Linked DNA regions of Homo sapiens. The protein of the gene in region 1 purifies or fractionates together with the protein of each later gene. This does not show direct contact. Each region holds a gene or a part of one and is shown on either strand. Other genes may lie near its edges.

Evidence for each region. Proteins that work in one complex are often made in the same cells at the same time.
Region 2: the proteins of CRYBG3 (region 1) and KCNAB2 purify together in Homo sapiens (co-immunoprecipitation; one large-scale study listed by IntAct). This does not show direct contact.

The regions. Positions count from the first base shown.
Region 1 is NC_000003.12:97,874,011-97,877,510, reverse strand, and holds part of CRYBG3 (very large A-kinase anchor protein), read right to left. Parts: coding exon 1-3,500.
Region 2 is NC_000001.11:6,094,388-6,097,887, forward strand, and holds part of KCNAB2 (voltage-gated potassium channel subunit beta-2), read left to right. Parts: intron 1-12; coding exon 13-98; intron 99-935; coding exon 936-1,056; intron 1,057-1,142; coding exon 1,143-1,237; intron 1,238-2,248; coding exon 2,249-2,369; intron 2,370-2,881; coding exon 2,882-2,970; coding exon of another isoform or gene 2,971-3,144; exon of another isoform or gene 3,145-3,168; intron 3,169-3,500.

The DNA.
Region 1 (3,500 bases):
CAGGTGAAACCTCACTAGATAGAATGTCCTCCTGTGAGCTGTCATCCTCATAAATGGGAGACAATGCTAAAGGATAAATTTTGTACCTTTTGGCCTCCACTGATAAGAACATTTCTGAACTATCACTATCAAATGTCTCACCTAATTTAGTACCTTTTTCAAAGTGATGGACAAGGTCAGTTCTACTCTCAGACCTTTCACATGCCAGAACAGGCATGCTGTCAGCGGACGTATCATGAAACAAGACAGACTGTGTTTGTCTTGCTTCTGCGGAAGCATACTTGTCCTCCTCTTGAAGGGGCTCTTCGTATAATATAGTAAAGGAAGAATTTTCTTGTTCATCTTGAGAAACAAAAGCTAAATTATATCCTTTGTCACTATAATCTGTCTCTCTCCTCTTGTCATATATTGCAGTAAGAGACATTCTTTTGTCTAGTCTTACTGTGGTATCCCCAGGTTGAAAATCTGGCATTGCTGGGGCTGGGTAGCCCTCATAATCCTTACTTAATGTAGGGGATTCATATCCCCTGAAATATGTAGGAAGTCTATTTTCATGTGCTATCAAGCCTTCCTTTATTTCTGTAGGCTCTTCCTTTGTTTCTTCAACACTCCCTTCAGCATACTCTTGTGGTGTTTTACTTTCAAATGCAGGAAGCATGGCCTCCCCTTGTTTAGTGGTCAATTCTAGTCCTGTTCCATGTATTTTCTCAATGTCTACCACTGCGGGTAACACTTTGTGTTTCCCAATATTCTCACCACGATCTTCTGGGGATATTTTTTCCATTTCTATCACAGAGGGTGTGGACACAGTTGCTCCAATAGTCTCTTTAACATCTCTCTTGCATGCTTTTTCCATTTCTAAGGGGGCAGGTGCTGTCTCGTGTGCTTCCTTCACTTTTAACACACACGGTACTATTTCAGTATTCTTAATGACCTCTTCAGCAGTCTTTCGGTAAGTAGCTTCCATTTTCAACACAGACCCTTCAGTGTTCCCGGTAAAACCTTTGGCATTTTTTTGGTAAGTATTTACTACCTCTAATGCAAGGGGCATCACCTCAGTTTTGCCACCGTCTCTTTCAGTATCCTTTGGGTAAGTATTTTCCATTTCTAACCTCACAGGCATCACTTCAGCCTTTCCAATATCCCCTTCAGCATCCTTTTGGTAAGTATTTTCCATTGCTAATGTAACGGGTATCACTTCAGCCTTTTCACTAATCCCTTCACCACCTTTTTGGTGGATATTTTCCACTTCTGACAAGGCTATCGTCCCAGTCTTGCCAATATCCCCTTCAGCATGCGTTTGGTAAATATTTTCCATGTCTACTGTAACAGGTGTCATCTCAGTCTTTACAATATCCCCTTCAGCATCCTTTTGGTGGATATTTTTCACTTCTGGCATCATAGGTATCACCTCAATTTTGCCAATATCCCCTTCAGTATCCTTCATCTTATAAGCTTTTTCCATTCCTAAAATGACAGCTGATCCCTCAGTTTTTTCAATACAGCTCTCGGCATCCATTTGGTATACTTCTCCCATTTTAAAAACATTAGCTTTTGGCTCAGTTTTCGTGACATTCAATTCAGCATCCATTTTATGTATTCTTCCCATTTCTATCATAGGAGGGACTGCCTCATATTTCAGAATATTCAATTCAGCATCCTTTTTGTTTGTTTTCCCTGTTTCTAACATGGAAGGTATAAGTTCAATTTTCCCTATATTTATTTCATTATCCTTCTTGTGTACTTTCCCTACATCTGACATTGCAAGAGGTGTGTTTTTACTGTGTCCTGGCAAGTTTTTTTCAGATATACATACAAGGCTATCAGACAAACTGCTTTTAGATGTACCAGGTGCATGGATGTCATCATTCACAAGTGGAGGCCATTTGAAATTTAATACAAGAGTTCTTCTGTCCTCTGTCTCAGTTTTGTTATTATCCACATTCTCTATTTCCATTGTCTCATTACAGTCCTCACTGCGAAATAAATGTGTTTTTACCCTATCATCTAACCGTTTATGTGACATGTCTTCAGCTAGTAAAACCGTATCTGATTCCTGCAAATTTATACTATCAGACAGTCCAGATCCATTTCCAGAAAATAGGGATTTTTGGTAGAGAACAATTTCTCCTCCCTTAATTGACTCTGTGCCACTAGCTAAGTTACTTAGGGAGAAGAATTCATTTAATACTTTATTTTCACTAATTTGTGTGCTTTGATTTACTGGCTGTTCTGAAACCAAGAACTCTCTAACTACATCATGTGGCTTAACACTATCACTGTTCAGAATTTTTGAAGTATTAGCCTGAAGTTCAGAATCCCAAGTATCCTCAGTATCTTCAAAAGTATCATTTCTCAATTTTTCTTGGGCTACATAAATAATCTCATTGACTAATTCCCTAGCTTTATCTTCTAACAAACAAGATACATTCATACTATTAGGATCAACAAGAAGATTCTTCTCACCAACTGTTGGTGAAACACAGGGCTTCTCTTTGACTTCTGACATGTTTTCCATGCCTTGCTCTTCCAAACCCTCTGTCTGTTGTATTTCTGTTAGTGTCACTTCTGATGGGTTTTTCTCAGAGATGTCTTCTTTCAGGGTACCCAGATTCATTATACCTTCTATGGCTATATGCTCCTGGCAGGTACTCACTGTGTGTTTGAATTTTAGTTCTTCCCTGACAGAATTAAAAATCTCACCAATCAATGTATCGGCCTTTTTGAGTAAACTACTTTTGAGGTCCAAAAGTTGGTCATGTGCTCTTCTCCTGGCTTCTATGTGCTCAGCAGAGGCTTCAGAACACTGTTGGCCTGAGCTGTTAACTGACGCTGCAGGCCCAGCAACTGCTCCAGTCTCTGCTTCCACGAGATTGTCAAATTGGGCAGCAGTTGGGAAATCAATGGATATCTTCCCAGTATAAATCCCAAAATGTTCCTGAAATGGGGTTACTTCTGTCCCAATTGAGACAGACGTTTCAAATTCCAAATAAGAGGTAGTAGGGTACAACAGGTTAGTTACAGAGGTACCTTCATGTGTGAGATCTTTGGTAACTTGTATAGAATCCAAATTATTTTGGGGCTTATGTGAATTTACTATCATGCTAACTTCTTCAGGGTAACTAGAGGAAGATGACACACTATCAATACCACCATTTAAAAAATGGATGTTCTCTTTCTTTCTGTAAGATGAGGATTTCTTTTCCAATTTCAGCACAGAAGGTACTTTAAGGAAGCTTGAGTCCTCAGATGCAGAAGAATTTTTTTCCAAACTGGAATCAGAATCCAGAAAAGGTGAATTTACTTTCATGCTGCCAGTTTCTTGGAATTTAGGGGAAATATTAGTTAAGCTGAGTTCCGCCATTTCTGAGTGACCAGAAATCTTTTTAGTCCCACAAATATCCAAAGATTGATGAAACACACAAGTGTGAGCTTCACAATTCTGCGCCATTTGCCTACTGATTTTTTCATCATGAATAGGTGGTAAAATCCAAGATATA
Region 2 (3,500 bases), on another chromosome or scaffold:
CTCTCACGACAGAGACCGTCCGCGCCATGACCCACGTCATCAACCAGGGGATGGCCATGTACTGGGGCACGTCACGCTGGAGCTCCATGGAGATCATGGTACGGTGGCCGCGCAGCATGTGTGTGTCCAGGCACAGACTCCCGGCACCGGCTGCGTATGGAGACCCCAAAGCTCTGGCGGGGTCTGTGCCTTTGGTCCCAACTGCACCGATGCCTGGGTGCTAAGGGAGGGACAGGATGGTGGAGTGTGGTGGTTATGTCTGTAGGCCTTGCAGACGGGGATTCTGCATGGATCCCAGCGCTGTGTGGCCCTGGACAAATGGCTTAACGTCTCTGAGCTTGTTTCCCCACCTGTAGAACACATCTGCTAGGTGAGCCCCCATGGGGCCATTCTAAGGAGTCCCTGAGAGAGCCAGTGTGAAGCTCTTAGCAGATGCCCTGGAGCTCAGCAAGCACTCTGGGGTGACAACACCGTCAGCTGTTTCCACTGGGCTCCTGAGACGTGCCCGGTGCTGTTAGGGTCAAGGGTTCCACAGGGACCCTCTCACATGCAATCCTCACCGGTGCCTTTACCAGGTGAGTGCCGCAGGCAGCCCATTTTTCAGATGTGGACACTGTGGCACAGAGAGGTTCAGTAACATGCCAAGGTCACACAGCTTGGGCCAAGATTAACATCCAGGCTGTGTGGTTCAGAGCCTGGGCTGCTCATAACTGGACCCTCCGGCCTGGGGGTCCCACCACCCACCTCCTTTTCCCAGCTCACCAGGGCCTGCCTGGCTCCCAGGGAAGCTATGAGTGTGAGCAGTGGGGAGCCCGGGCTGCAGCTGCTGGGCCAGCCTGCTCCGGGGACACCTTGGTGCCCTCTCCATGGCTGCCCCGGCAGCCTCCCGCCTGCTCACAGGCAAGGGCCCTCGGGGTCCCTTTCTGCCTTCACAGGAGGCCTACTCCGTGGCCCGGCAGTTCAACCTGACCCCGCCCATCTGCGAGCAGGCTGAGTACCACATGTTCCAGCGTGAGAAAGTGGAGGTGCAGCTGCCGGAGCTGTTCCACAAGATAGGTGGGCACCCTCGGGCCCCTCGCCCCGCCCCACCCCACCCCTGCTCTCGGGCCCAGGGCTTGACTCCACCTGCTTTTCCTCTTCAGGAGTGGGCGCCATGACCTGGTCCCCTCTGGCCTGTGGCATTGTTTCTGGCAAGTACGACAGTGGCATCCCACCCTACTCAAGAGCCTCCTTGAAGGTGAAGGAACAGCCTGGTGGGGAGGGACGGGCAGGGGATAGGCATTTTGGACGGGTGGGACCTTTGGGCCGACTGCTTTGGTGCTGGGCAGGGGTTCCGGGAGCTGCAGCTGTTCCCACCTCGGTCTGCTGGGGGCGGGCTCCTTGGCGTGAGAACATGGAGCCCCTCCTGGCCTGATCCCATGTGTAGAGGGGCTGCCCAGCCTGTGGCACAGGCCCAAGTGGAGAGGCCCTTTCACATCCCCCCCCCTGCCCCCACCACATCCCCCCATCTCTACCCCCTACCACATCCCCCACCTCTGCCCCCCACCACAGCCCAGCATTCAGAACTCTGAGACCCCTGGGCCTGGGCTCCGAGATGGGGGCTGCAAAGCCACATGGAGGTGACCCTGGGAGAGGCGCCCCTCCCCACCACACAACCTCTGAGTGGGGACTCAGGAGGGTCCCCAGACTGCAGGATCTGGAGAACAAGGAGCAGGCCAAGAAAGTCTGCCCAGCCAGCAGTCTCAGCACTGGGGCCCACAGCCCTGGGTTCCAGGGCAACGTGGCCTGGCCCCCGACTCCTCCCATCCCATGGCAAGGTCAGGGCCCCCCTCCAGGAGGCCCTGCAATCCTCTGGGGGGGATGGCCAGGGGAGAGAGCACTCCCCTAGGGCCAGGAGGTTCTTCTGGGCCACGGGTGGCAGCCGAGACCCCAGGCTGCCAAGTTTCCTAAGAGAAGGAAGGCCAGCACCTCGCCTCCTTGTCCTGACTTGGGGTTGGGCCAGCACCACAGTCTTTGCACTTCAGAGCCTGGACAGGCCCCGCTCATCCACCAGCCCGTGCCCGGCCCACTGCCCACTCTCCCCTACTTGAGAGGCCTGGGGCAGGGGCACTGCCCTGGCTTCAAGATGAGAAGAGCCCCTATGAGGGAGAAGGGTCCAGAAGGAATGAGCCCATCGGCCCCCTGCACGTGGGGGTCCAGGTGACCTGCTCTCATCTGTAGCTGTGCTGCTCCCCTCCCCCGCAACCAGGGCTACCAGTGGCTGAAGGACAAGATCCTCAGTGAGGAGGGCCGGCGCCAGCAAGCCAAGCTGAAGGAGCTGCAGGCCATCGCCGAGCGCCTGGGCTGCACCCTGCCCCAGCTGGCCATAGGTAACGGTGGGGTCGCCATGGGGCCAGTGCCCCTGGGGAGAACCTGCCCCAGCTGGCCGTAGGTAACAGGGTGGGGTTGCCATGGGGCCAGTGTCTCCGGGGAGAGAGGGAAGGGATCCCTGGACATCATCCCCCAGCCAGCCTCGGGTAATCGGGCTCTAAGGGGCATGGTTGGGACCCCATGCCTCTAGGGGGATGTCAGGAGTCCCTGAGGACCTGGGCCACCCCCTCCATCTGCCAGCCATAGGTAATGGGGCTCCCGCTTTCATGGGAAGAGGATGGGGAGCGCTAAGCACTTGGGCCACCTCTCCATCAGGGAGCAGCGGGCTCCCCCATGCCTCCTCCAGCCACCTCTTAGACAAAGCCCGTGCCCAGCACTGCAGGGCTTCCTAGACCCCCTCAGACCCCCAGACCAAGATGCTGGGTCTCTCGGCCCAGTCAGAGGCAAGGCAGACCCATCAGGGGCCCCTGTGGTGGGTGTTTCTCCCTCACCTTGGGTCTCGCCGCCACAGCCTGGTGCCTGAGGAATGAGGGAGTCAGCTCCGTGCTCCTGGGGGCCTCCAATGCGGACCAGCTCATGGAGAACATTGGGGCAATACAGGTAAGAGTGAGAGGCCCTGCTGGGCAGAGGGCCCATCCCAGCCCGAGCCCCGTCCAGTGCATCCTCCCAGGCTCGTCCTGCGTGCCAGGCTCTGTTCTAGGCACTCAGGATGCGCCCGTGAACCATCAGAGTTGTGCTCCTGGAGAGCTTGCTTTCCAGCAGGAACAGACATGAACACTAACTGCACGAAACAAGGAGGTTAGAATGTGTGTCAGGGTGGACGAGCGCTGTAGGAGAGAAGCCAGAGATAAAGGGAGGGAGCTGGGGCCAGGGACGGTGGCGCTGCAGACTCAGGTTCAAGGGGGCCTGTCAGGTGGGCTTGTTGAGAAGGTGGTGCTTGAGCAGTCTTGAGAGATGCGGAGTAAGTCACGCAAATGCCTGCGGGAAGAACCTTCCACCAGCAGGAAGAGTTGATGCAAAGGCCCAAAAAGGCCTGGAGCAGAGGGGCAGATCCTGAGAGGCACGAAACACCTCCAGGGACTTCTGAGTGAGACGGGAGCCGTGGCAAAATTGTGGGCAGAGGAGGGCGA